Homo sapiens: one gene and its partners. The protein of the gene in region 1 interacts with the protein of each later gene in a pairwise test. Each region holds a gene or a part of one and is shown in the gene's direction. Other genes may lie near its edges. The genes, in order: UBIAD1, CYB5R3, ASGR2 and CD33.

The links.
Region 2: the proteins of UBIAD1 (region 1) and CYB5R3 interact in binary tests that used the Homo sapiens proteins (3 or more experiments, as listed by UniProt).
Region 3: the proteins of UBIAD1 (region 1) and ASGR2 interact in binary tests that used the Homo sapiens proteins (3 or more experiments, as listed by UniProt).
Region 4: the proteins of UBIAD1 (region 1) and CD33 interact in binary tests that used the Homo sapiens proteins (3 or more experiments, as listed by UniProt).

Annotation. Positions count from the first base shown.
Region 1 is NC_000001.11:11,268,211-11,276,205, forward strand, and holds the start of UBIAD1 (ubiA prenyltransferase domain-containing protein 1), read left to right. Parts: upstream 1-4,987; 5' UTR 4,988-5,321; coding exon 5,322-5,850; intron 5,851-7,995. UniProt on the Homo sapiens protein: Prenyltransferase that mediates the formation of menaquinone-4 (MK-4) and coenzyme Q10. MK-4 is a vitamin K2 isoform present at high concentrations in the brain, kidney and pancreas, and is required for endothelial cell development.
Region 2 is NC_000022.11:42,639,376-42,646,397, reverse strand, and holds part of CYB5R3 (NADH-cytochrome b5 reductase 3), read left to right. Parts: intron 1-1,771; exon of another isoform or gene 1,772-1,888; coding exon of another isoform or gene 1,889-2,008; intron 2,009-5,796; exon of another isoform or gene 5,797-6,123; coding exon of another isoform or gene 6,124-6,426; exon of another isoform or gene 6,427-6,595; intron 6,596-7,022. Other genes in the region: ATP5MGL (ATP synthase subunit g 2, mitochondrial), read left to right, coding at 6,124-6,426. UniProt on the Homo sapiens protein: Catalyzes the reduction of two molecules of cytochrome b5 using NADH as the electron donor.
Region 3 is NC_000017.11:7,104,812-7,111,833, reverse strand, and holds part of ASGR2 (asialoglycoprotein receptor 2), read left to right. Parts: intron 1-2,945; coding exon 2,946-3,062; coding exon of another isoform or gene 3,063-3,098; intron 3,099-3,276; coding exon 3,277-3,372; intron 3,373-3,926; coding exon 3,927-3,998; intron 3,999-4,516; coding exon 4,517-4,603; intron 4,604-4,682; coding exon 4,683-4,834; intron 4,835-7,022. UniProt on the Homo sapiens protein: Mediates the endocytosis of plasma glycoproteins to which the terminal sialic acid residue on their complex carbohydrate moieties has been removed. The receptor recognizes terminal galactose and N-acetylgalactosamine units.
Region 4 is NC_000019.10:51,221,153-51,228,082, forward strand, and holds the start of CD33 (myeloid cell surface antigen CD33 isoform 1 precursor), read left to right. Parts: upstream 1-3,927; 5' UTR 3,928-3,939; coding exon of another isoform or gene 3,940-3,966; coding exon 3,967-4,003; intron 4,004-4,065; coding exon 4,066-4,446; intron 4,447-4,650; coding exon 4,651-4,929; intron 4,930-5,156; coding exon 5,157-5,204; intron 5,205-6,930. UniProt on the Homo sapiens protein: Sialic-acid-binding immunoglobulin-like lectin (Siglec) that plays a role in mediating cell-cell interactions and in maintaining immune cells in a resting state.

The DNA of each region.
Region 1 (7,995 bases):
GCCTCCCAGGTTCAAGCAATTCTCCTGCCTCAGCCTCCAGAGTAGCTGGGATTACAGGTGTGCACCTCGGCAGAGTAGCTGGGATTATAGGCGCACCCCACTGTACCCGGCTAATTTTTTGTATTTTTAGTAAAGACAAAGTTTCACCATGTTGGCCAGGCTGGTCTTGAACTCCTGACCTCAGGTAATCTGCCTGCCTCAGCCTCGCAAAGTGCTAGGATTACAGGTGTGAGCCACTGTGTCCAGCCTAATTTTTGTATTTTTAGTAGAGACGGGGTTTCACAATGTTGGCCAGGCTGGTCTCGAACTCCTGACCTCAAGTGATCAGCCTGCCTTGGCCTCCCAAAGTGCTGGGATTACAGGTGTGAGCCACCGCACCTGGCCCCTGATTAATTTTATAAAGTTTGTTGGGACGGTTTCATTTCCATCTTGGTACACACAGAGTTTCTTGTCCTTTTGTTGTTGCTACAGCTGCATAGTGTTCTATCACATGGCTGTGCCATAGTTCATTTTCCAGTCCTCTGTGAATGGACATTTGTGTTATGTCCAAATTTGTGCTATTACAAATGCTGCAGTGAATGCCTTTGTACGTATATCATTTTCTTCCCTGACAGCTATATCAAGATAAATTCCCAGAAATGGGATTACAGGGTTAGACAGTTTTGTTGAATCTTGTCAAGTTGATCTCTATAAGGGAGGTACCAATTTTTATTCCCATCAGCCATATAGGAGATTTTTGCCACCCTGAGATATGATACAGCCCTGTTTTCTAATTAATAATCAAAGATGATTTTATAGCAACAGTAATAAGTGCGTTTGTCGGTTTCTTTTCTGTTTACAAAGAACTTTCTTTTTTATTGTATTTTTGCAAGTCTTTTTATTTTATTATTATACTTCAAGTTCTAGGGTACATGTGCACAACGTGCAGATTTGTTACATAGGTATACATGTGCCGTGTTGGTTTGCTGCACCCATCAACTTGTCATTTACATTAGGTATTTCTCCTAACGCTATCCCTCCCCCAGCCCCCCAACCCCCAACAGGCCCCGGTGTGTGATGTTCCCCTCCCCGTGTCCATGTGTTCTCATTGTTCAACTCCCACTACAAAGAACTTTCTTATGCATTACACTAAAATAATAGCTAATATTTATTGAGCACTTACAGTGTATCAGGGATTTTGGTGGACATTATAGAGTACTTGTTAAAAGCAGCTTGGAGTCAAGTCAAACTAACTGAATCTGAAATTTGGCTGCAACACTTTGTACCTATTTCCTTATGTGTAAAACTGGAAGGATTATAGTCTCTTCGTTGGTAGGCAGTATTGTGGGGGTTAAACGCTAATACCACACGTAAAGTACCTAAAAGAGGTACTTGGCCCAGCATGGTGGCTCACACCTGTAATCCCAGCACTTTGGGAGGCCAAGGCAGGTGGATCACCTGAGGTCAGGAGTTCGAGATCAGCTTGGTAAAACCCTATCTCTACTAAAAATATAAAAATTAGCTGAGCATGGTGGCAGACGCCTGTAATCCCAGTTACTCAGGAGGCTGAGGAGGAGAATCACTTGAACCTGGGAGGTGGAGGTTACAGTGAGCCGAGATCGCACCACTGCACTCCAGCCTGGGCGACAGAGCAAGACTCCGTCTCAAAAGCAAACAAAGTATATGGCTCATGTGAAAAGTCAATAAATGCTGTTTACTATTATTCCTGAGCATTTCTATGAGGCAGGTTGTATTGTTCCCACCTTATATATAAGTAAGCCAAAGAACAGAGATATTGGGACATGGAATTGGTAAGTGATAGAGCCAGGATTTTAATCTATCTGCTGATATATTGTCTGATTTGACATTGTATGACTCATGGGTTTGGCCAGCATAGAAAGCTCTGTGTTGAGTGGTGAAGTTGTAATGTTCAACAACCAGATTGGGGGTAAGTGGAAGCAGACATGTACAGAGCTAGCTTCACAGCTGTGTCATGCTCTGTTTTGCAATTGTTAATGATTTTGAACAAGAGGCCCCACTTATTTTTTTTATTTTTTAAATTAATTAATTATTTTTTTTGAGATGGAGTTTTGCTCTTATTGTCCAGGCTGGAGTGCAATGGCACGATCTCGGCTCACCGCAACCTCCACCTCCCGGGTTCAAGTGATTCTCCTGCCTCAGCCTCCTGAGTAGCTGGGATTACAGGCATGCGCCACCACTCCCGGATGATTTTGTATTTTTAGTAGAGACGGGGTTTCTCCATGTTGGTCAGGCTGGTCTTGAACTCCCAACCTCAGGTCATCTGACCACCTTGGCCTCCCAAAGTGCTGGAATTACAGGCGTGAGCCACCGTGCCTGGCCTGGCCCCACTTATTTATTGATTTTATTTTATTTTTTTGAGATAGGATCTCACTCTATTACCCAGGCTGGAGTGCAGGGGCACAATCATGACTCACTGCAGCCTCAACTTCCCAGGCTCAGGTGATTCTTCCGCCTCAGCCTCCCAAGTAGCTGGGACCACGGGTGCACACTGCCACGCCTGGCTAATTCTTTTACTTTTTCTTTTTCTTTTTTTTTTTTTTTGAGATGGAGTCTTGCTCTGTCGCCCAGGCTGGAGTGCAGTGGCACGATCTCGGCTCACTGCAAGCTCCGCCTCCGGGGTTCATGCCATTCTCTTGCCTCAGCCTCCCAAGTAGCTGGGACTACAGGTGCCTGCCACCACGCCTGGCTAATTTTTTTGTATTTTTAGTAGACATGGTGTTTCACCATGTTAGCCAGAATGGTCTTATCTCCTGACCCCATGATCTGCCCGCCTCGGCCTTCCAAAGTGCTGGGATTACAGGCGTGGGCCACTGCACCTGGCCCACACCTGGCTAATTCTTCGATTTTTACCGTGTGGTCCAGGCTGGTCTTCTCCTGGGCTCAAGCGATCCACCTGCCTTGTCCTCCCAAAGTGTTGGGATTACAGGTGTGAGCCACCACATCTGGTCTTTTTAATTTTTTAGAGCGGAGATCTCACTTTGTTGCCCAGGCTGGTCTCTAACCTGAGCTCAAGAGATCCTCCCGCCGGGTGCGGTGGCTCACACCTGTAATCCCAGTACTTTGGGAGGCTGAGGCAGGCGGATCACGAGGTCAGGAGATAGAGACCATCCTGGCTGACACGGTAAAACCTTGTCTCTACTAAAAATACAAAATAATTAGCCGGGCGTGGTGGCGGGCGCCTGTAGTCACAGCTACTCGGGAGGCTGAGGCAGGAGAATGGTGTGAACCCTGGAGGCGGAGCTTGCAGTGAGCCGAGATTGTGTCACTGCACCCCAGCCTGGGCAACAGAGCAAGACTCCGTCTCAAAAAAACCTCCTGAGTAGCTGGGACTACAGGCACACATTATCACCCCCAGCTCCACCTCTTTAGTTTGCACTGGGTACCACAAATTATGTAGTCAGTCCTGTGTGCATCTATGTTGCATGTGTATTATAATTTCACTGATGTAAATGATGTGTAGCATACAGTTTACAAATACTAAAATATACAGTACAGGACTCTATTGTAAACTCCATATAGCCAGTTCTCACAGTATGCTTTCTTTGATGTTGTGTAGCTTCCCTATGGTCCCAATTGATCAATGAGCATAGTTCAGACATGAATGTTGGTTGATATTTTATGTTAGGAGTAAGAGGAAAGTGAAACAATCAAAAGAGATATGTCAGAACTTCACTAGTTTGTCAAGGCTACAAGCGACTTATTTGTTCAACTGGATAATAATTTGCCAATGCTGAACGAATATTTCCTCAAAGTTTTGGTGCATTCACTTACACACTTTTTTTCTCTCTTTTTTTTCTTTTTTGAGACGGAGTCTCGCTCTACTGCCCAGGCTGGAGTGCAGTGGCGTGATCTTGGCTCACTGCAGCCTCTGCCTCCAGGGTTCAAGCAATTCTCCTGCCTCAGCCTCCCGAGTAGCTGTGATTACAGGAATGCACCACCACCCCCGGCTAATTTTTTTTTTTTTTTTGAGATGGAGTCTCACTCTGTTGCCCAGGCTGGAGCCCATTGGCATGATCTTGGCTCACTGCAACCTCCATCTCCCGGGTTCAAGCAATTCTCCTGCCCCAGCCTCCCGAGTAGCTGGGATTACAGGTGCCTGCCACCACGCACGGCTAATTTTTGTATTTTTAGTAGAGACAGGGTTTCGCTATGTTGGCCAGGCTGATGTCGAACTCCTGACATCAAGTGATCCGCCTGCCTCGGCCTTCCAAAGTGCTGGGATTACAGGCGTGAGCCACCGCACCCTCCAACACTTTTAAGTTTAACCAGTAATATGAACATTTTCTCCGCCACTTTCTTAAGTCTAGACGACTTAGCAGTTATTAAGCATTTGCTGATTTGCGTGGTGTAAATTCTCCCACCATGGGCAGATTTCAAGCTGCTGAAGGATGTCACTGAATGAAAAGCTGATAAGAGGTGAGCAGTAGCACATCATAGAGTATTTCCACGGTGCAGATATGATAGACGTCAGAATGTATGCACACAGCAGGCGCTCAATAAATGCTTGTAGCATGAATAAATTAATGAATCCTACTTCGTGAATGAAAGTGCGCCCGGTAAGTCCTAAAGCAACACGCCTTCGAGTTCTTATGATGCTAAGAGAGGCTGATTGCAGTTAGTCTGGAAGTAGCTGCGGGGCGCAGTGCAGGCAGGAAAAGGGCTGGATGCCGGGTCACCGCCCGGCCCCAGCTCCTGGCCCGTCCCCGCTCCCGGTCCATTCCCGCCCCGGCCCCGCCCCCTCCCGCCCCACCACCGGTCTGGCCCCGCCCCTCAGCCCCGCCCCACCCCTCACCGCCCTTCTCCCCGCCTCTGACCCCGCCCCTCCTCTGACTCGGCCCTGCCCGCCCCGCCTCTGACCAGGCCCCCGCCCCCCACCCCTCACCGCCCTTCTCCCCGCCTCTGGCTCGGCCCCGCCCCCTCCCGCCCTCCAGCCCACCCTCCGGTCCAGCCCGCGCCGCCGGCACCTGTTTCCGGGCGGGCCTCCAGAGGCCGGCGCACAAGATGGCGGCTCTGGCGGCCTAAAGAAGGCGGCCGCGGCTCAGCCGTGGGCTCTAACGCGGGGCTGGGGGCCGGAGACAGACTTCGCCCAGGTGACGGGTAGTAGGGGCGGCGCCGCTTGGCCTCGTGGGGTGTAAGACCCACTTGCTGTTGCCCCCGGACCTTGCCGCCACACCAGCCCTGTCCTGGGGCGGAACCGAAGGAAGGTCGGGCCCTGCTGCCCCGCCCCGTCCTTCCTCCTTCCCGGGCGGTCACTGTGCGTGGCTCACTTTTAGAGTTTACTTCAACCACGTGGAGCTTCCATGGCGGCCTCTCAGGTCCTGGGGGAGAAGATTAACATCCTGTCGGGAGAGACTGTCAAAGCTGGGGACAGGGACCCGCTGGGGAACGACTGTCCCGAGCAAGATAGGCTCCCCCAGCGCTCCTGGAGGCAGAAGTGTGCCTCCTACGTGTTGGCCCTGAGGCCCTGGAGCTTCAGTGCCTCACTCACACCGGTGGCCCTGGGCAGTGCCCTTGCCTACAGATCCCACGGTGTCCTGGATCCCAGGCTCTTGGTGGGTTGTGCCGTGGCTGTCCTGGCTGTGCACGGGGCCGGTAATTTGGTCAACACTTACTATGACTTTTCCAAGGGCATTGACCACAAAAAGAGTGATGACAGGACACTTGTGGACCGAATCTTGGAGCCGCAGGATGTCGTCCGGTTCGGAGTCTTCCTCTACACGTTGGGCTGCGTCTGTGCCGCTTGCCTCTACTACCTGTCCCCTCTGAAACTGGAGCACTTGGCTCTTATCTACTTTGGAGGCCTGTCTGGCTCCTTTCTCTACACAGGAGGTAAGATTTGGCCTGTCCTGTGTGCTGCAGGTCTTAGTCGCGTCCACTGGAAACCGCTGCTTTGTAAAGGAGTTATAGGGATGTCAAAGGTGGCTTTCTAATTTAAGCCGCTTTAATTGAAGTCTATAATTGTGGGTGATGTGAATTTTTTGAAACAGTGATTTGAGAAGATCCTGGTTTGACTTACGGACGTAGGGCATGACTGAAAATTTTATATGGACATTTATTTTTATTTATTTTTTATGTATTCATTTTTGAGACGGAGTCTCGCTCTGTCGCCCAGGCTGGAGTGCAGTGGTGCGATCTCGGCCCACTGCAGCCTCTGCCTCCCGTGTTCAAGCGATTCTCCTGCCTCAGCCTCCCGAGTAGCTGGGACTACAGGTGCACGCCACCACGCCTGGCTGATTTTTGTATTTTTATTAGAGACGGGGTGTCACCATGTTGGCCAGGATGGTCTCGATTTCCTGACCTCGTGATCCACCCGCCTCAGCCTCCCAAAGTTCTAAGATTACAGGCGTGAGCCACCGCGCCCTGTCAGGACATTTTTTAATTTTTTTTATTTTTTTTGAGACAGAGTCTCGCTCTGTTGCCCAGGCAAGGGTGCAGTGGCACCATCTCGGCTTACTGCAACCTCTGTCTCCCGGCTTCAAGCGATTCTTCTGCCTCAGCTCCCCGAGTAGCTGGGACTACAGGCATGTGCCACCACGCCTGGCTAATTTTTGTATTTTTAGTAGAGACAAGGTTTCACCATGTTGGCCAGGCTGGTCTTGAACTCCTGACCTCATGACCTGCCTGTCTTGCCCTCCCAAAGTGCTGGGATTACAGGCGTGAGCCACCATGCCCGGCCTATATGGACATTTTTTCTGTCTCATTTTTTTTTTTAATCACTCATACTTTATAATGCCACAGTTTCAAATATTAGAATTAAATCTGAAGAGTTCAAAATGATATAGATAATTACTTCTAGCTAGTTTGCTAGGTGACTTCTTGCAAGAGGCTGATTAAGGTAGTGATGGGCAGGTGGGTAAGCCCTATTTATTGAGCACCTATTATGTGCCAGGCACTGTTCTGTGTGAACACAGCAGTCACAGATCCCTGCCCTTGTGAAACTTACGTATTATCATGAAAAGAGACAGAAAGTAAAAATAGAAAATTATAGTTAGGGTGACCAATATCCTGGTTTGCTCAGGACTAAGGTGACAGGACTAAGTCGGATGTGCGACTTCTGGAGCTAAAACCAGAAAAGTTCCTGGTAAGTCAGGTTGAATTGATCACCCTGATTATAGTATATGAAAGATGATAAGTGCTATGGGAAAAAAAAGTAGAGCAAAGAATGGGACACAGATTACTATTTTAAGTAGTTTGATCAGGGTAGGCTTCATCAAAAAGGTAACATTTGGCTGAGTGCAGTGGCTCATGTCTGTAATCCCAGCCCTTTGGGAGGCTGAAGCGAGAGGATCGCTTGAGGCCAGGAGTTAAACACCAGCCTGGGCAACATAGACCCCTGTCTGTATAAAATATAAAATAAAAAATATTAGCTGGGCATGGTGGTGCTTGCCTGTGGTCCCAGCTACTTTGGAGGCTGAGGCGGGAGAATTGCTTGAGCCCAGGGGTCAAGGCTGCAGTGAGTCCTGATCACACCACTGCACTCCAGCCTGGGCGACAGAGTGAGACCATGCCTCAGAAAGGTAGTATTTGAGTTGAGTTACATTGAAGGAGGTAAGAGGTGAGGGAGTTGGCCAAGCAGATATCTGAGAGAGGAGCATTTCAGGAAAAGCAACAGCAAGTGCCATAGGCCTTCAGGCAGGAATGTGTCCAAAGAGCTTACAGAGCAGCAAGAAGTCCAGTGTGTGAATGAAGGAGAGAGTAAAGAGAGGTAAAGTAAGAGAAGTACGTTTGGGGAGGGTAAGGAGGCACACACACGGATTATATAGACCTTGTAGGCCACTGGTCTTGGCTCTGGAATGGAGGAGCCACTGCAGGACTTTGAGCAAGGGAGTGATGTAATATAATGTTTTAAAAGAATTGCTCTGGGTAAGGTATTGAGAATGGATCAAGGGGAGTGGGGCAAGGGTAGAGGCAGGAAGACCAAGTAGGAAGCTCTTGAATAATCCAGGCAAGCGATGTTTGGTGGCTTGTATCTAG
Region 2 (7,022 bases), on another chromosome or scaffold:
CCTGGGACTCTGGCACCCTGTGTCCCTCTTCCCCTCTGTGTTATTAGAGGCAAGGAGAGGCGGGTGATGGGTTCCCTGGTGGGGCAGAGCATGGCTTGTGGGCATTAGGTCAGGGGCTGGGAGGCAGCTGTCTCCTGGGCCCCCAGGTGGCTGGGGTGAGGTGGTCTGTGTGTGTGAGTGTGTGTGTGAGTGTGCACGCAGCACAGGTGAGGAGGCACAGGGGTGGGACCTTGGCCTCAGCCACCTGCCTTCTGTTTACTTGGCCCACTGCTGGTGAGGGTTGGGGTGGTGCTGTGGACGAGGACGGGGCAGAGCCTGTTCCAACCCGTGTGGGTAGGAAGAGAGTGCACCCCACCGTGTGAGTCTGGCAGGGCCTCTGGCTTTCTGGAGGTGAAACCTTCGCCCCTCCACTGCTCCTGGCTGTGGTGCGCCCTCTCTGCCGGTGTCTGTCTCCCCGTCTGGCTTGAACTCGGGCGGGGCCTCCTGGCCTGTGTCCCCTGCGTTGCACATGGGACCTGCCACCTCAGTGCCCACTGGGGTTTGTGGACTAAACGACTGACCGACGGTGATGGTCTGCCTGTGGCTGCCTCCCCAGATAAGAACTTTTACCTATAAAAAGCCCACCCCTTCTCTTTAGTGGCCAGAAAGTGTCCCCGGGCTCAAGTCTGTCCCCTGAGGCTTGGTTTCCTCACCTGAAGTGGGAGGAGTCATGAACAGGCTTGAGGACTGAATGAGGTGGCGTGAGCAGAGGCTGCCCGCCTGGCTCCGGGCAGCCCCTGTTGTTGGGAGCAGACACTGGAAGGAAGGTCCTTGACTCTCATCTGCTGCCCACGGCGAGCCTGGCCTTCTGAGCAGTGCTTGACTCCCAGCTCAGCCACGGGAGCTGCGTATGTCCTCTCTGAGTGTGGAACAGGCGTGGAAACAGCCTGGAGCCGGATCCTAAGCCCACCTCTGAGGCCTGTGCTCTTGGAGGACAAGCGGGCTTTTCTGACAAACAGGACAGGCTGTGCCGCGCCCTCATCCAGGAGTCTGGGCTCTTGTCCTGGTTCTGGAAACTTCTAGGCAAAATAAAAACACTGGGAGGGTGGGAGCCTGTTGTCCCTTCACTAATTCATTCCACAAATATTTGTTGAGTGCTTTCTGTGTGGAGTGTTGGGGATACAGTGGTGACGACAGACACAGATCCTGCGGTCTGCTCCAGGGCCACTTCTGGAGACTTGTGGGGAGCCGGCAGCCTGGGGTTGGAGGCCAGCATTCGGGGACTTGCCATCGGAGCCACTAATACGCGGGTGTCTTTTTCTTGGCCCAGCGCCCACCCAGGCTCACTTCCATGGGTTTAGGTTTAGGGCAAGGGAGGGAAGTGGGAAAGCAACAGAAAATCAGAAACCAGGCTCCACCCTGGGCCTCCTTGAGCTACATTTGTCCCCTCATTGTCACACGGGGAGCCTGGTTGTTCCCACCTTGCACCACTGTGGGAGGGCCGGGGAGGAAATGGGGGAAGGTGCCTCGCAGCCCGTGAAGCCAGCTGCCCGCGGAGGGGCCTTAAGCTGGGCTGTGCACTGACGCAGCTGTGCTGGAAAAACAGAACTCCAGGGAGCACCAAGCACAACCCCAGCTCCTAATGTCATTCAAGTTCATTGCCAGGGCCCCCAACAATGGTGATTTCCTGTGAATGTAACTTCGGCCAACTTTTTCCCTAGACTCTATTCCACGTGGGCGTGGTTTCTGTGACTGAGGGAGAGGTCGATAGCAGAGGAATCCTCGGAATAGTACTTGCCCCAGGGAGTTTCCAGAAGGGACCAGGGGCTGTGAAAAGTCTACCAAGGGCCTGGTTAGCTAGGGAAGGGCTCATCAGGGAAGATTTGATGTTTGAGCTAGGCTCTGAGGAATGAATAGGAGTTTGCTGGTTGGATGCATGCAGAGCAAGGACATTTGGGGCAGAGAGGAGAGCATATGCGAACGCCTGAAGCAAGATGGGCTTGATGTTGAAAGAGCAGAGAGCTGGGAGGTGAGTCCAGAGTTGGGGCCATAGAGAGGGTGCCTTCAGGTAGGCAGTGGGGAGCTATGGTGGGTATTTGAGGAGGGGTGGAGCCGCCTGTTGGTTCGGACCCCCGGGGCTGGGGGCAGGTGCTCAGGCCTCACTGTGGGAGGCAGGATGTCAGATTTGGGCTGTGAGCTCTTTGACTGGAGCAGAAAGAGTGCCCCTGTCCTGGGAGGTGGCTCAGGAAGAGCAGCACTTTGGGCTGGACATTGAGAGTCCACTCCCGGCCCACCCTGAATGGCTATATGACCTTGGCAGGTCACTTCATCTATCTGAGGGATAGATAACAGTGTCATGTGGTGAGCGATGCTTGGAGGGCTGGCTTTGGTGTACTCCGGGCAGGTCACTCCCCTTTCCTGGCCTCAGTTTCCTCACGTGCTGGGATGATCACAGTGCCCGCAGCCTAGGGTTGAGGTGGGGAGTATTCCAGGAAACCCGCGGCCCCTACTCAGAACAGTGCCAGCTCAGGGGCGCTGACCGCTGTGTGCCTCCTTCCTCCCCACCCTCCCCATCCTCCAGGTAGGGCCCGGGGAAGTGAAGCGACTCTCCTGCCATCCTTAGCTGGGACTCAAACCCTGGTCTCTCTGACCCAAGTCCACAGCTGCCAACTGGGGCCTTAAAGGAGGCCTGGGATGAGTGAAACACCTGGGCCATGCTGATTAAATGGGTGGTGGCCAGAGACCCCAGCTGGGTGGCCCTGGGCATGGGTGAGGGGTGGGCTAGGCATCCACAGCCCTTCCTTTAGACCCATGGGTCAAATACCAAGGGCCCCATGGAGCGAGGCCTCAGCTGCACCCAGCATGGAGGCCCTGCCTGGGAGAGAGGCCTTTTGTTTTAAGCCCAACAAAGGACCTGTAACTGTAGCTGGGCAGCTTGGAGCTGCTGGGCCGTTGCAGGGTGGGGGGTGGGGGGGCGGGGGCCAGGCCTGGTGTGAGGTTGTAGCACCCTGCCCTTCCTTCACTTGGCTATTCCACTCCTCTCAGTTGGTAGTGGCCCCGTGAGGGTGGCAGGAAAAGCTCCTGTGTGTGAGCCGGGACTTCCCAGGTTATAGACCCCTACGTGACCTGGGCCCCAGCTCATCTCATCTCACATCGCTTCAAGGAGATAGGCCAGGCAGTGGCCCTCGCTTTTTACAGACAGGACACGTGGCTCCACCAGAGCGTCCTCCTCAAATTGTTGGAGAGTAGGGACTCCTGGTAGTGTTTCCAGAAGGGGAGGGGCAATGGGGCTAGGCCTTGAGAGGTTAGGAGCATCTTACCTGGCTCTGAATAGAGCAGAGGCACTTGTCTGTGTTCTGCAGGATATACTACCTCAAGGGGCCCGTAGCAGGTCCCACAAAGCAAGTAGAGAGGCCTGCACGCATGCAAGGAACTTGTTTCTCAGCTTCCTGGCACTCAAAGTGAAAAGGGAACTTGTAGGGTAATGATAAGAGAACACACATGCACATTTGCTGGGAGAACTACAATCAGGGAGGTATATGGGGAGGGTGTATAAACAAGCTCTGAAACAGCTTTCTTGAGAGCCAGTGTTTTATATGAACTTTGGCTTCTCAGCCTCTCTAGTTGAACTACCAGTATGGGCTTCACACACTTTTTATTTTGAAATAATTTCAAATTACTGGCCGGGCGAGGTGGCTCACGCCTGTAATCCCAGCACTTTGGGAGGCTGAGGCGGGCGGATCACGAGGTCAGGAGATCGAGACCATCCTGGCTAACGCAGTGAAACCCCGTCTCTACTAAAAATACCAAAAATTAACTGGGCTTGGTGGCGAACGCCTGTAGTCCCAGCTACTCGGGAGGCTGAGGCAGGAGAATGGTGTGAACCCAGGAGGCAGAGCTTGCAGTGAGCTGAGATCGTGCCACTGCACTCCAGCCTGGGCAACAGAGCGAGACTCCATCTCAAAAAAAATAATAATTTCAAAGTTACTGTAAAAGAACATTTATGGGCTGGACGCAGGGGCTTATACCTGCAATCCTAGAACTTGGAAGGCTGAGGCTGGCTGTTGGCTTGAGCTCAGAAGTTTGAGATTAGCCTGGGCAACATGGTGAAACCGCATCTCTACAAAAAATACAAAAAAATTACCAAGGCCTGGTGGTACGTGCCTGTAGCCCCAGTTACTTCGGGGACTGGGCTGGGAGGATTGCTTGGGTACAAGAGGTCAAGGCTATAGTGAGCTGAGATCACGCCACTGCATTCCAGCCTGGGTGATAGAGTGAAACCCTGTCTCAAAAAAAAAAAAAGAGCTCTTATGTACTCTTCACCCAGATGTACCTAATGTTATTATTTGCTACATTTGCTTTATTTCTCTCTATACAGTATATATCTAATGTATGTTAAATATATTAGATACTACATGTGTGCATATCCATACAGTGGACCCTTGAATGGTATGGGGGTTAGGGGCTGACCTGTATAGTTGACAGTCCACGTATAGGCTGGGTGCAGTGGCTCATGCCTGTAATCCCAGTACTGTGGGAGGCTGAGGCGGGTGGATCACTTGAGGTCAGGAGTTCGATGAGACCAGCCTGGCCAATGAGAAAAAACCCCGGCTCTACTAAAAATACAAAAATTGGCCAGGCGCTGTGGCTCATGTCTGTAATCCCAGCACTTTGGGAGGCCAAGGCAGGCAGATCACCTGAGGTCAGAAGTTCGAGACCAGCCTGGCCAACATGATGAAAACTCGTCTCTACTAATGATACAAAAATTAACTGGGTGTGGTGGTGGGCGCCTGTAATCCCACCCACTTGGGATGCTGAGGCAGGAGAATCGATTGAACCCGGGAGGTGGAGGTTGCTGTGAGTTGAGATCTCACCACTGCACTCCAGCCTGGGTGACAGAGCCAGACTCCATCTCAAAAAAACAAAACAAAACAGAAAATAAAAATTAGCCAAGTGTGGTGGCGTGCGCCTGTAATCCCAGCTACTTGGGAGGTTGAGGCAGGAGAATCGCTGGAGCCCAGAAGGCGGAGGTTGGAGTGAGACAAGATCGCGCCACTGCATTCCAGCCTGGGCCAGATCTGTCTTAAATAAAAGAAAAAAAAAAGAAAATCCATGTATAACTTCTGGTTCCCCCAAAACTTTCCTACTAATATACTATTGACTAGAAGCCTTACCAATAACATATTTGTATATTGTATGTATTATATACTATATTTTTACAGTAAAGTAAGCTAGAGAAAACTGTTATTTTAAAAATCATAAGGGGCCGGGCGTGGTGGCTCACGCCTGTAACCCCAGCACTTTGGGAGGCCGAGGCAGGAGGATCACCAGGTCAGGACTTCAAGACCAGCCTGGCCAACATGGTGAAACCCTGTCTCTACTAAAAATACAAAAATGAGCCAGGAGTGGTGACGTGCGCCTGTGATCCCAGCTACTCGGGAGGCTGAGACAGAAGAATTGCTTCAACCTGGGAGTTGGAGGTTGCAGTGAGCTGAGACCGTGCCACTGCACTCCAGCCTGGGTGACAGCAAGACTCCGTCTCAAAAAATAAATAAAGAGAAAAAAAAATCATAAGGAAGAGAAAACATATTTACTATTCATTAAGAGGAAGTGGATCATCATAAAGGTCTTCATCCTTGTTCTCACGTTGAGAAGGCTGAGGAGGAGGCAGGGGGTAGTCTTGCTGTCTCGGGTGACAGAAGAGGAAGAAGATCCTTGTATAAGTGAACCACTCAGGGTCCTGGCCGGGCACAGTGGCTCACGCCTGTAATCCCAGCACTTTGGGAGGCCGAGGTGGGTGGATCATGAGGTCAGGAGTTCAAGACCAGCCTGGCCAACATGGCGAAACATTGTCTCTACTAAAAGTACAAAAATTAGCCAGACGTGGTGGTGCTCACCTGTAATCCCAGCTACTCGGGAGGCTGAGGCAGGAAAATCACTTGAACCCGGGAGGCGGAGGTCACAGTTAGCCAAGATCACACCACTGTACTCCAGCCTGGGTGATAGAGTGAGACTCCATCTCAAATAAATAAATAAATAAATAAATAAATAAATAAATAAATAAATAAGTGAACCACGCAGGGTCCTTCCGGGGGGTGACCTTCAGCTGGCCATTCGGGATGATGGACTTTCCATCCCAGAACCATGGCTCCATTTGTCCGTAACCTTGTGGAGAAGACCCCAGCACTGGTGAATGCTGCTGTGACTTACTTGAAGCCTCGATTGGCCGCATTTTGGTACTACACCACGGTTGAGCTGGTTCCTCCCACCCCTGCTGAGATCCCTAGAGCTATTCAGAGCCTGAAAAAAATAGTCAGTAGTGCTCAGACTGGTAGCTTCAAACAGCTCACAGTTAAGGAAGCTTTGCTGAACGGTTTGGTGGCCACTGAGGTGTCGACGTGGTTTTATGTCAGAGAGATCACAGGCAAGCGTGGCATCATTGGCTAGAATGTTTGAAGACCAGTCTTAACATCTGATTATATTTGATTTATTATTTGAGTGTTGTTGGACCAGGTGTGATCAGACTGCTATCTGAATAAAATAAGATTTGTCAGAAATTCCAAAAAAAAAAAAAAGTGAATCAAGCAGTTCCAACCCATGTTCAAGGGTCAACTGTGTCTATATTTTGAACCATTTAAGAGTAAGTTGCCCCTTTGCCCCTAAATATTTCAGTGTGTATCTCCTAAGAACAAGGACATTCCTTTGCGTAACCACAGAATAATTACAGGAAAGTAACATTGGTACAACACTATTATCTAATCCACAAGCCTTATTCAATTTTTTTTTTTTGAGATGGAGTCTTGGCTCTTGTCACCCAGGCTGGAGTCCAGTGGCATGATCTCGGCTCACTGCAACCTCTGCCTCCTGGGTTCAAGTGATTCTCATGCCTCAGCATCCTGAGTAGCTGGGATTGCAGACGCCCGCTACCATACCTGGCTAATTTTTGTATTTTTGGTAGAGACGCGGTTTTTCCATGTTGTCCAGGCTGGTCTCCAACTCCTGACCTCAGGTGATTCACCTGCCTCGGCCTCCCAAAGTGCTGG
Region 3 (7,022 bases), on another chromosome or scaffold:
AGACTAGTCTTGAGCTCCTGGGCTCAAGTGATTCCCCCCGTGTCGACCTCCCAAAGTGCTGGGATTACAGATGTGATCCACAGTGCCTGGCCCTAAATTTTTCTTACGCATTTCTCATCTTCCATTATTTCCATCCAGTGTGTTTTTTCTTTTCTTTCTTTTCTTTTTTTTTTTTTTGGAGGCGGAGTCTCGCTCTGTTGCCCAGGCCGGAGTGCAGTGGCGCGATCTTGGCTCACTGCAAGCTCTGCCTCCCGGGTTCATGCCATTCTCCTGCCTCAGCCTCCCGAGTAGCTGGGACTACAGGCGCCTGCCACCACGTCTGGCTAATTTTTTGTATTTTTAGTAGAGATGGGGTTTCACCATGTTAGCCAGGATGGTGTCGATCTCCTGACCTCATGATCTGCCCGCCTTGGCCTCCCACAGTGCTGGGATTCCAGGCGTGAGCCACGGCGCCTGGCCAGTGTGTTTTTTCATTTCAGACATTGTAGTTTTTATCTCTAGAAGTTCACCTGGGGACTCTTAAATATCCTCCACAATTCTACTTAATTTTTTGAACATAATGGGATATGGCTATAATATCTGTTTTACCATCCTTGCCTGCTAATTCTAGCATCCGTGTCAGTTCTGGATCTCTTTTGATATTTATGAACCTCCTCGTTATGCATTGTGTTTTCCCGTTTCATTGCATGCCTTGTAATCTTTGATTGGCTGCCAGACATTGTCAATTTCACCTTGTTGGGTGCTGGATATTTTTGTATTCCTCTAAATGTTCTTGAGCTTTGCTCCGGGATGCAGTTAAGCAACTTAGAGTCAGTTTGATCGTTTGAACTCTTAATTGTTTTGGTCTCCTCGGACTCTCAGCTCCATCTCCTCAACGTGGGGAGTCTCTTGGGCTCTGCCTGGACTTCCCTTTCCTGGCCTGTAACCTGCAGACTCTCTCCAAACAGTAAGCTGGGGTGATCGGAGGGTTCCTGTTGTTTGCTTCTTATCCCTCAGGGATCTTTACTCCTCCTTGCCTGATGTCCAGAGTCTTGAAAGCTGCCATGTTCTATAGTTGTCTGTTTTTGTTTTGATTGTTTCTGGGGAGAGAAGAACTCTTCCCATCTTGGGCAGACCCTGTCTTTTATGTTCAAACTTTTGCCTAAGAAGCACATTACATATTTTAACTCATCTAATTATCCGAGCAATCCAATCGGGTAGCTACGACTGTGATCTCCATTTTACACACGAGAAAATGGAAGCATGGAGAAATTGAATGCTGGTGCATGATCTCAGAGCTACCTGGAGGCACAGCTGGGCTACCCTGTGGGCAGTCTGGTTTCAGGGTGGATATACAGACACGTTGCTGGGCTGACCCAGCATTGGGAGTTGATAAGTCGGACTGGGAAGCAGGACAGGACCCTCTGAGTGGAGGGTGCTGAAGACAGCAGTCAGGGACTCAGCCATGGAGGGCCAGCTTGGTGGGGAACACCGTGGTCATGGAGCGCTTCTGGATGGAGAGGAATGCAAAGGCCTTGGAGGAAGGGGTGGGGGCAGTGAGAGGGAGGGTGGGGCTGTGCTCAGAGCGGGAGTGGGCAGTGGAGGTGTCAGAGGCCTCCCTGGGTCAAATGGGGTCCTGAGTGTGGCTGCAGTGGGGAAGGTGGAAGTCACTGGTGTGAAAAAGATGAAGAGTTATGGACAGTCACTTACAGGGGCAGTGTCTGACTCAGGACAGTGGCAGGAAGTGACCTGGGGAGGAAGATTCTGGGCCCCTGACTGAGCCTCCCCAGGATGTGGTCCTGCTGGGTCGGGGGGTGATAGGAATGAGAAGACAAGGAAGTCCACAGAGTCAGGGTCCAAGGCCTAGAAGGTGTTCTGTTTGCAGGTGGATGCTGCAAAGAGAGGAGCTCAGGGCTGGGACAACTGGAGCTGCTCTGGGTCTGGAGGCAGCAGAGAGGGAGCCCAGCTCTGTGTGCAGGAAGACGTGGGTGTGTGAGTGTACGTGTGTGGGTGTGTCAGGTGTGTGTGTGTGGGAGGGAGTATGAATGTGTGCATTAGCATGCATATGCACATGTGAGAGTGGGTACAGCAGAGCGTGGTCATGAGTGTGTGCAAATGTGTGTTTTTGAGTGAAGTGAGCAATGTGTGAGTGTGTGAGTGTGTGTGAGTTTGTGAGGGCATGTGAATGTGTGTGTCAGTGCTGTCAGGGTGCAGATGGATCAAGGGGCAGGAGAGGTACCTGTGAGATGACCTCGGGCTGAGGGGAGCAAATTTAGTGTGGAACGAGGTTTCTAGGGAAGCGAGGGCAAAGGGCGCTGGGGAGGAGGCCTTGCGTGGTGGGGGATGAGGACAACAGGTGGGACCTGGAGGGTTGTGCTTGGAGAGTGGGCTATGGTGGAATGACCCAGATTTAAGGATCTCAATGGAATTTTGGCAGGGGAGGGACTGTTCCAGTATGGATTTTAGGAAGAACACAGGGCCCAGCTTCTGGAGTCTCCAATCTGAGGGGACAGGAGCCTTAGAAGAGCTGAGACTAAGGCCCGAGGTGATCTGGAGGCCTCTGCCACTGGCTGGATGGGAGGAAAACCATTCACAGATCCCCCTTCTCAGGATGTGTGCCTAGGCAGGGCCGGGTCTGCCCCCCCGCCCCCTGTGCGTCTCCCAGTCCCCCAGCTCCAGGATCCGGGCTTTGCACACAGCTGATGTGAATATCCTGAGTCGTGTGCATGGGTGTGTGTGCACCAGATTAGCTGCGTGTGTATATTTATACATGGTAATATGGGTGCGAGTGTGTAAGAGTGTGTGTGTAATGCTCAAATGCTGGGGTCAAAGCCTATGATGACCCCCCCCCATGGCCCCAACCAATCCCCCCGCCCAGGTTATGCCTCCTCAGGCTTCGGTGCCCTGTCTTTACCCTCCGGCTCCCCACACCCAGGCTGCCGGCTCCTGATGCCCCTCTCCCACAGGGCCACCTCCTGCCCAGCCCCTGGCACAGCGTCTCTGCTCCATGGTCTGCTTCAGTCTGCTTGCCCTGAGCTTCAACATCCTGCTGCTGGTGGTCATCTGTGTGACTGGGTCCCAAAGTGAGGGTCACGGGGGCCAGCAGGGATGGGCAAGGGGTAGGGAAAGAGACATGGGCAGTGGCGGGCAGCGATCGGGGCGATGGGAGGGGAAGGGATGGAGGCGGGGTGGAGCACAAGCTGGGGCAAATGCGGGGACATTGAGGGGCCAGTCACATGGACAGTGATGGGGACACGGCCCCTCTGCCTCATCCTGCCCCCACTACCACCTGACAAGGTGCACAGCTGCAAGCCGAGCTGCGGAGCCTGAAGGAAGCTTTCAGCAACTTCTCCTCGAGCACCCTGACGGAGGTCCAGGCAATCAGCACCCACGGTGAGGGGCTGGACGGCTGGGTTCTCATTTATCCGCACAGGTTTGCTGGGCTCAGTGCCGAGTCTGCAACAGGGCTGTGTGGGGTGCCGTGGGGGTGCAGGCTGGGCAAGGCGTCCAGGGGCCCTGGGGGATGTATAGGAGGGAGGCAGGTGGGGACGGACGAGGTTAGTGCCAGGTGGAGAGGTTGGATCTGCGACACCCGGAGGTGAGGAAGGCACCATGTCTTGGGCCTGTGAGCAAATCGAGTGTGGCAGGCCCATCGGAGGGGCAGGCAGGTAAGGGGTGGCCAGAGAGAGGTGGGGAGGGGCCCGGCCACGCAGGTGAGCCGTGCTGACAGAGCGAGGCTTTATTTTGAGAAAATGGGGACCCATTGAAGGGACTGAAGCAGGAGAGTGGCCTGAGCCACTGTGGCAGTGCAGGGAGCCTGGGTGTGGTCCAGGAAGCCAGGAGGTGGACGCCTGCATCGCCCAGGACGAGGCGCTGGCCCCCGGTCCCCCAGCAGCATGAGGACGGAGGGAGGCTCAGCGGGGAAACAGCTGGCTTTCCGCTTCCAGGAGGCAGCGTGGGTGACAAGATCACATCCCTAGGAGCCAAGCTGGAGAAACAGCAGCAGGACCTGAAAGCAGGTCAGAGAGCCTCCGGGGTGTGTGCGCATGTGCGTGCATGTGTACGTGTGCGGTGTGTGTAGTGTGTACGTGTGCGGTGTGTGTAGTGTGCACGTGTGCGTGCGTGCGTGTGTGTGCCTGCAAGCATGTGTATCTGTGTCTCTCTCCGTATGTGTGGTGTGATATGTCATGGATCTGTGTGTGGTGTGTAGTGTGGTGTATATGTGTGTGTTGTGTGTGTATGCATGTGTGGTGGTGTGTGTGAGATGAGTCTGTGTGTGTGCGGTATGGTATATGTGTGTGTACGCATGTGATGTGTGTGGTGTGTCTCTTGGTGTGTTTGTGTGTGTGTGATGGATCTGTGTGTGGTGTGGTCTATGTGTGGTGTACATGTCTGTGGTGTGTGTGTGGTATGGTGTGTGGTGTGGTCTATGCATGGTGTACGTGTCTGTGGGTGTATATGCTTCCCCAGCCACAGGCTGGAGCCTAGCAGGTGGGGACCACACCTGCCGGCAGCACTTTCAGCCTGTCTGTCCTAGATCACGATGCCCTGCTCTTCCATCTGAAGCACTTCCCCGTGGACCTGCGCTTCGTGGCCTGCCAGATGGAGCTCCTCCACAGCAACGGTAGGGGTGGGGCCGTCTCCAGGCCCAGTGTGCCTGCCCCTCCGGCTGGATCTCATCTCCCTGCCCCCTGTCCCCTCAGGCTCCCAAAGGACCTGCTGCCCCGTCAACTGGGTGGAGCACCAAGGCAGCTGCTACTGGTTCTCTCACTCCGGGAAGGCCTGGGCTGAGGCGGAGAAGTACTGCCAGCTGGAGAACGCACACCTGGTGGTCATCAACTCCTGGGAGGAGCAGGTGAGGCCACGCTTCCCACAGGCAGGAGGAAGCCCTTGGAAGGCCTGCTCTGGGAGGCTGGATCAGGCTTATTTTATCCATTTTTTTTTTTTTTTTGAGATGGAGTCTCGCTCTGTCGCCCAAGCTGGAGTGCAGTGGCACGATCTCGGCTCACTGCAAGCTCCGCCTTCTGGGTTCACGCCATTCTCCTGCCTCGGCCTCCCAAAGTGCTGGGATTACAGGCACGTGCCACCATGCCCGGCTAATTTTTTTGTATTTTTAGTAGAGACGGGGTTTCACCGTCTTAGCCAGGCTGGTCTGGAACTCCTGACCTCATGATCCGCCCACCTCCGCCTCCCAAAGTGGTGGGATTACAGGCGTGAACCACCGCGTCTGGCTGAACTTCAAAGTATTTTAATGCCACAGTAGTTAAGCCATATGATACAGGGGCCAGAATATATGTATTGTTTGCATTACATCAGGCTCTGTTAGTACTTTACAGCATACTGTGAGTACGAACATATTTTGCTTTACTGATCAGGTTGAACTTGCCAACATTTCATCAGTTTTGACCTATAAAAATGTCAGTTTCATGCAGTTCAACCTAAGATCTCAGTGCTCTGTGATTTGGCACACAATAAGCTCATGACCACTACAACTTCGTGGTGGACGGTGCTTTCGTCACTATGAAGCCAACGTGTGTCCCAGTTAATGCTTTTTGCCTTGAATTTATCTGATATATAAATACCACGGTCCTTGATTTTTTTGTCACTTGCATTTGCTTGCTGTATCTCTGTCCATCCTTTTGTTTCTTACCTTTTTGAATCTCTGTTTTAAATTAATGATTCTCAGTCTTGACTGTACATTGCAATCTCTTCAAGAGTTAAAAAAAATATATCGACTCCTGGATCTCGCCCTTAAAAATGCTGATTTAGGCCGGGTGCAGTGGCTCACGCCTGTAATCCCAGCACTTTGGGAGGCCGAGGTGGGCGGATCATGAAGTCAGGAGTTCGAGACCAGCCTGGCCAAAATGGTGAAACCCTATCTGTACTAAACATACAAAAATTAGCCGGGCATGGTGGCGGGTGCCTGTAATCCCAGCTACTCAGGAGGCTGAGGCAGGAGAATCACTTGAACCCGGGAGGCAGAGGTTGTGGTGAGCTGAGACTGCGCCATTATACTCCAGCCCGGGTGACAGTGCGAGACTCTGACTCAAAAAAAAAAAAAAATGCTAATTTAAATTAATCTTGGCTTCATCCTGGACCATTCCCTGAGGGGCAGCACAGGGCAGCTAAGCTTAAGGTATTTCTCCTATATAGGTTTTTTGTTTTGTTTTGTTTTTGATACAAGATCTGGCTCTATCGCCCAGGTTGGAGTGCAGTGGCATGATCTCAGCTCACTGTAACCTGTGCCTCCCGGGCTCAACGGATTCTCCCACCTCAGCCTCCCAAGTAGCTGGGACTACAGGTGCACACCACCATACCTGGGTAGTTTTTTGCATTTTTAGTAGAAATGGTGTTGTGCCATGTTGCCCAGGCTGGTCTTGAACCCCTGGCCTCAAGCGATTCGCCCGCCTGGGCCTCCCAAAATATTGGGATTACAGGTGTCTGAGCCACTGTAATCCAAAAACTGCACCTGGCAGGTTTTGTTTTTGATGTTTAAAAATCTAATAAGTACCTTTTCTTTTAATAGGTGAGTGTCTCATTTACATTCTAATAGATATGTTTAACCCTAGTCCTTTCTTTTTTCTGCTTTACATGCTTCTTAATTTTCTTACAATTGCTATGTGAGAGGTGTTCTTTTTGTTTTCTTCTTTATGGTATTTTGGAAACTATGTAGTTTATTTAGAGTTATTCCAGTGATTACTTGTATAACTTTAAATAATAGGCTGAAAATTATTGGCTTTGAAAACTAAAAGTTTGTATAACTTCCATAGGAAAGGTGAGGAGACCAGGATACCTCTTATTCCCATGTGTCTGAGTCTTTCCTTTCCTAGGTTCCTTAAGTGTTGTATCTGAAAAAAAAAAAAAATTTTTTTTTTTTTTGAGATGGAGTCTTGCTCTGTCGCCCAGGCTGGAGTGCAATGGCGCGATCTTGGCTCACTGCAACCTCTGCCTCCCAGGTTCAAGCAATTCTCCTGTCTTAGTATCCCGAGTAGCTGAGATTACAGGCACCCGCCATCGTGCCTGGCTAACTTTTATATTTTTTA
Region 4 (6,930 bases), on another chromosome or scaffold:
CAGAAGCAAATGCCAGCACCACATTTCTTGCACAGCCTGCAGAACTGTGAGCCAAAATATATCTGTTTTCTTCATAAATTACTCAGTCTCAGATATTCCTCTATAGCAAGCCAAGAATGAACTAACACAATATTTTAAAAAGGTAGCCAAAGGTTTTATCAGCCACCTCACCAGAAAAGAAAAACAGATGGCAAACAGGCTCATGAAAACATACTAAAGATCATTTGTCCTTAGGTAATTATAAATCAGGAGAATAAGCATTCTTAGGTAGCATTACATACCTGAGAACATAACTAGAAAACAAAACAAAAATAAAAAGAAATGTTTAAATATTCTGATAATATCAAATGTTAACAAGGATGTGAAACAATCAGAATTCACACATAACTCCTGGTGGGAATACAAAATGGCACATCAACTTTGGAGAACAGTTTGACAATTTCTTATAAATTTAAACTGAACACTTACCATAGGACCAGGCACCTGACTCCTAAGTATTTACCCAAGAGCAATAAAAACTTACAGTTACACACAGAAACCTGCATGCCAATATTTATAACAACATTATTTCATAGTCACCCAAACCTGAAAACAATCTGAATGCTCCTCAAATGGTAAATGCATACAAAATGGGGGGTCCATAAAAACAGTGAGTTACGAGTCAGCAATTAAAGGGAACAAACTATAGATTCATACACTCAACCACATGATTGAACCTCAGAGGCACTGCACCAAGTAAATGAAGCCAGACTTTGGAGGCAACATTTTGTATGATTCCATTTATACGACATTCTGTGAAAAGGCAATACAGTAGGGATGGAAAACATATCAGCATTTTTTCATGGACTAAGTGTGGAGGGAGGGTTGACTACCCAGAGACAGGAGGAAGGAACGTTTGGTTAATGACACTCTTCAGTGTCTTCACAGTGGTTGTGGGTATATAATTATATACAACTCTCAAACCATATCAAAATTGCATATGATAAAGAGTTAATTCAACTGTATCTAACTTTAAATAAATTAAAAAATTTAAAACACTGGATGCCACTATGCTCTCACTAGAATTGTTCAAATATAAAGCAGGACAGTATCATACGTCGACAAGGGTGTGGAGCTACTGGAATTCTGGCACATGGCTAGGAGGAGTGGTAAAAAGTCAAAACCATTTTGGACAACAGTTTGGCAATTCCTACTAAGGTTAAACTTACAAGTAGTCATTAGTCTGACTATTTATCTTCCTGTGTATACCAATTAGTATAAAACCATGTATGTAAAAAGACTTGTACCTGAATACCTGTAGGGAGAAAACTGGAAAATCCTTGTCTATCAATAGGTGAGAAATAAAACATTATAGTATACACATAAATGGAATACTACTTAACAATATCACATTTTGAAATACAGACACAAACAACGTGGTTCAGTTTCAAAAAATATTATGCTGGGTCATAGGATACAGACACAAATTAACACATCTCTAGGAGATTTTCAAATAGACTAACTCACAATGAAAGAGGACATATCAGTGGTTGCCCAGCATAGAAGGTGGGAAGAAAAGCCCTTGGCATACTAGAAATGCTGTATATCTGCAGTGTGGTGAGTATACAGGCTGTACATACTCGTCAAATCTCATGCAAATGTGAACTTCAAGTAGGTGTGCTTTATTTCATGTAAATTATACCTAATTAAATTCATTAAAGAAACACAGTAAGACTCACATATTCATATTTGATCTTCTGGTCCATGAACATAGTATGACTTTATTGTTAAAACTAAATGTGGCTGGGCACAGTGCCTCATGCCCATAGTCAAAGCACTTTGGAGGTCGAGGTGGGAGGATTGCTTGAACCCAGGAGTTCAAGATCAGCCTGGGGGAACATAGCAAGACCCCATCTCTCCTAAACATAAAAACAAAAAGTTACTCCGGCCTGGTAGTATGAGCCTGTGATCCCAGCTACTAGAGAGGATGACGTGGGAGAGTCACTTGAGTCTGGGAGGTCAAGGCTGCAGTGAACTGTGGTCAGGCCGGTGCACTCCAGCCTGGGCAACAAAGCAAGACCCTGTCTTAAAAAAAAAAGCACTAAATGTATTGAATTTTCTATTACGTGCCACATGCTAAATATTTAAATAACTTACAACAGATATTATTTACTGGAGACTTAATTTGTTGTATATCAAATGAGGATGCAGCTACCTCTCTATTAGTAAGGATGAATGAAGAGTTATCTAGATACTATTGTGTGTAGAGATTTGACAAAGGTATGGTGGCAAGTACTAATATGTCCCAGGGATCAACGGTTTGCTGGATGCATACTACACAGAGTGATATGGAAAACCATGTAGCTGGACCTAAAGTTTAATTTTCTCTGTACACTCCACTCATGTTGTCTGGAAATATTATGTCTTTGGGCCATATTTAACTGTGAGAAGCAGATTTTTACATGAAAGAAAATGTTGATCCATATGATGAGCCTCTAAAAAAACTTGCTTCTGCCCACACTGAACCAAATGGCAGCATGAATGGAAAAGAAGTTTTTTCTGCACTGGTTCATAGAACATGTGTTCTCCCTTTTGTTTCACAGGAAGATGCTGCATGGTTCTTGTTTTGGAGATGTCATTGACACTGTGCAAATCAGTGTACTAGGTGCCAGGGGAAAATTCTATAGTCATATTTCTTTTAAAATTTCCAATATGCTACCATGATACATGGCAAATTCCCAACTTTTCACAGCTCTAAAGCCAGACAGCATGTGTGTGTGTGGTGAGGACATGAGGCTATGGATGGGGAGTATCTTAAGGGCAGGAATCAGGTCAGTGGCATCTCTTCTCAAGCCCCACCTATACACAAAGGCTCACTGTAAGAATTAAAGAAAGAGGAAAGAAACACGAATGGTGGCTCACCAGTCAAGACAGATTTTAGAGAAAACAAACCTGAGAGGAGTTTCTGGCCGAGTTAAGTCAGAGGCACACTCTCTTACAGACTAAGAGTTTTTAAGGATTTAGGGTGGGAGAGTTTATCAGAGACTTGGACTGCTTCTGAGTCTCTTTGTTGTGCTTATCTGGGAGAGAGAGGTGTGTGTCTGTACCCATACATCTTTCTGCAGCTACAGGCATACCCACTGAGTCTGCTTTTAGCTTCCCTATCTTAGTGCACCTGAAGGGAAAGGAATTTGCTTATTAAGGCCCACTGTTTTACTAGGGCCATTGTATGAGGGTGAAGTTTGGCAGTAACTCAAGAGACTCTCCCCCTACCTCCCTCTGTGCCCGAGCTGTCTTATCTGTGTTTCACTGTCTGCTCTTTCTGGTTGCTTGTAGTTAGCAGAGAAGTGATTTCCTTGAAATGCATGAGGCTAGAAAGGAAATTGGAACTTAAAGAGGCAGTGTTTCTCCGAGATGACGGTGCTCCTGCTCTGTCACTCACTATATCTTTAGTGAATGAATGAATAAATGAATGGCTGCCACCTTCACTTTACCTAGGACTCTTCTTTGTTTCTCTGCCCCAGACACTCACACGGACCCTATAGAATCCTATATCCTGCTGGACTAAACACCCCATGGATCTAGGTGAGGCTGCGACTCGGGCCAGGCCAGCAGTGATCAGCCCTGGTGTAAACAGTTGTGCACAGAAAAGCACCTCAGAGTGGAAGGACTTTAGACATGGGGTTCGCATGTCTCAGATGGCCCTGAAGGTACTGATCCAGGCTCTGGTGCTCCTGGAAGGCAAGACTCAGATTCTGCTCCATCTCCTCCCATCTCTGGGCGGGTCTCTGGCATCTCTGGCCCATGAGGGTCAATCTGTGTGGAGGGGACAAGCTCTGAGCATGTGTGGGTCTGAGGTTCCTCTTCCATGCAGGGCTGAGGTCTCCTGCTCCTCCCCAGCTTCCTGTCCGGCCCTGTAGTCCTTCCCCTCCACTCCCTTCCTCTTTTCTGCTCACACAGGAAGCCCTGGAAGCTGCTTCCTCAGACATGCCGCTGCTGCTACTGCTGCCCCTGCTGTGGGCAGGTGAGTGGCTGTGGGGAGAGGGGTTGTCGGGCTGGGCCGAGCTGACCCTCGTTTCCCCACAGGGGCCCTGGCTATGGATCCAAATTTCTGGCTGCAAGTGCAGGAGTCAGTGACGGTACAGGAGGGTTTGTGCGTCCTCGTGCCCTGCACTTTCTTCCATCCCATACCCTACTACGACAAGAACTCCCCAGTTCATGGTTACTGGTTCCGGGAAGGAGCCATTATATCCAGGGACTCTCCAGTGGCCACAAACAAGCTAGATCAAGAAGTACAGGAGGAGACTCAGGGCAGATTCCGCCTCCTTGGGGATCCCAGTAGGAACAACTGCTCCCTGAGCATCGTAGACGCCAGGAGGAGGGATAATGGTTCATACTTCTTTCGGATGGAGAGAGGAAGTACCAAATACAGTTACAAATCTCCCCAGCTCTCTGTGCATGTGACAGGTGAGGCACAGGCTTCAGAAGTGGCCGCAAGGGAAGTTCATGGGTACTGCAGGGCAGGGCTGGGATGGGACCCTGGTACTGGGAGGGGTTTAGGGGTAAAGCCTGTCGTGCTTAGCGGGGGAGCTTGACCAGAGGTTGATCTTCTCTCAGGCCCTCACCTGGACCCTCCCTCCTGATTCTGCATCCCCTCTTTCTCCTCACTAGACTTGACCCACAGGCCCAAAATCCTCATCCCTGGCACTCTAGAACCCGGCCACTCCAAAAACCTGACCTGCTCTGTGTCCTGGGCCTGTGAGCAGGGAACACCCCCGATCTTCTCCTGGTTGTCAGCTGCCCCCACCTCCCTGGGCCCCAGGACTACTCACTCCTCGGTGCTCATAATCACCCCACGGCCCCAGGACCACGGCACCAACCTGACCTGTCAGGTGAAGTTCGCTGGAGCTGGTGTGACTACGGAGAGAACCATCCAGCTCAACGTCACCTGTAAGTGCTGGGCCAGGATGCTGGGGTCCCTGAGGGTGTAGGGGAGACAGGATGGGCTGGTGCTGGGGACATTTAGTGTCCTGGAGGCCTGGCTGAGTTCGGGAGCCAGAAGGACATGAGCCCTGTCCCTTCTGCATTTCTGTGGTTTCTGGCAGGAGTAAGGGGAAATGCCTACCCTTATCTCATCTCTACCCCCAACTGAAGGAAATCCTCTCTTCCTCTCCTAGATGTTCCACAGAACCCAACAACTGGTATCTTTCCAGGAGATGGCTCAGGTAGGAAGGAGCCTCCCCGCCTGGGGCTGTTACTGACATTGAGTCTGTGTCAGGTTTGGTCAGATCTGGACTTTCAGAGTCAAATGTTCAGAGGCAAGGCCTGCAGTTAGACACGGGTAGACATCAGGCACCTTGGAAAAGGATATTTGGGGATGACTAGCAACTTCCCCCTTGCCCATCCAAATAATGCTCTTTGTCTCCCTCCTGTCTCTGAATGTCTTGGGGTATTTTATTTTTAATTGATATGTAATAATAGTACATATTTATGGATGGCATAGTGATGTTTCCATACTAATAATGTATAGTAATCAGATCAGGGTAATAGCATATCCATCATCTTGAACATTTATTATTTCATTGTTGTTGGGAACATTCAATATCCCCTTTCTAGCTATTTGAAGCTATCTATTATTGTTAAGCATAGTCATCCTACAGTGGTATAGAACACCAGAACTTATTCTTCCTTTCCAGGTGTAATCTAGTATCCTTTAACAAATCTCTCTCCTTATCATTGTTCCCCTAACCTTCCCAGCCCTTATTATTCTCTGTTCTACTTTTTACTTCTATGAAATCAACTTCTTGTAGCTTCCACTTATGAGTGAGAACATGTGGTATTCAACTTTCTGTTCCTAGCTTATTTCATTTAACATAATGTCCTCTAGTTCAATCTATGTTATAGTGAATAACAAGATTTCATTATTTTTTATGGCTGAATGATAATCCATTGTGTATATACGCCACATTTCCTTTATTTATTCATCTGTTGTTGGACACTTAGGTTTATTTCATATCTTCCTATTGTGGATAATGCTGCAATAAACATTGAGGTGCAGACGTTTCTTCAATATACTGATTTCCTTTCCTTTCTATAAATGCCCAGTAGTGGGGTTGCTGGATCATATGGTAGTTCTATTTGTAGTTTTTTGAGAAACTTCCATACTCTTCTCCATAGTGGTTATACTAGTTTACATTCTGGTCAAAAGTATATAAGAGTTCCCTCTTCTCTACATCCTCACCATCATTTGTTAATTTTCATCTTTTTTTTATCATAGTCCTCCCAACTGGGGTGATGTTACCTCATTGTGGTTTTGATTTGCATTTCCCTGGTGATTGGTGACGTTGAGCATTTTTCATATACACTTGTTGGCCATCTGTATATCTTTTCTTGAGAAATGTCTACTCAGATAATTTGCCCATTTTTAAATGAGATTGGGTTTCTTTGCCATTGAGATGTATGAGTTCCTCGTATGTTCTGGATATGAATCACTTGTCAGATGAATAGCTGACAAATATTTTCTCCTATTCTGTAGGTTGCCTTTTCACTCTGTTGGTTGTTTCCTTTCTGCATAGAAGCTTTTTAGCTTGATATCATCTCATTTATTTACTTTTGCTTTTGTTGCTTGTGCTAGTGAGGTCTTACTCATAAAATATTTTTCCAGACCAATGTCCTAAAGCATTTCCCCTATGTTTTTTTCTAGTATTTTTTAAATTTTGTGTCTTATATTCAGGTCTTTGATCCATTTTGAATTGATTTTTGTATAGGACGAGAGGTGTGAGTCTAATGTCATTCTTCTGCATATGGCACCAGTTTTCCCAGCATCATTTATTAAAGAAACTGCTCTTTCCTCAATGAGTGTTCTTCATGCATTTGTCAAAATTCAGTTGGCTGTAGATCGTGGATTAATTTCGGTGTTCTCTATTATGTATTATTGGTGTATGTATCTGC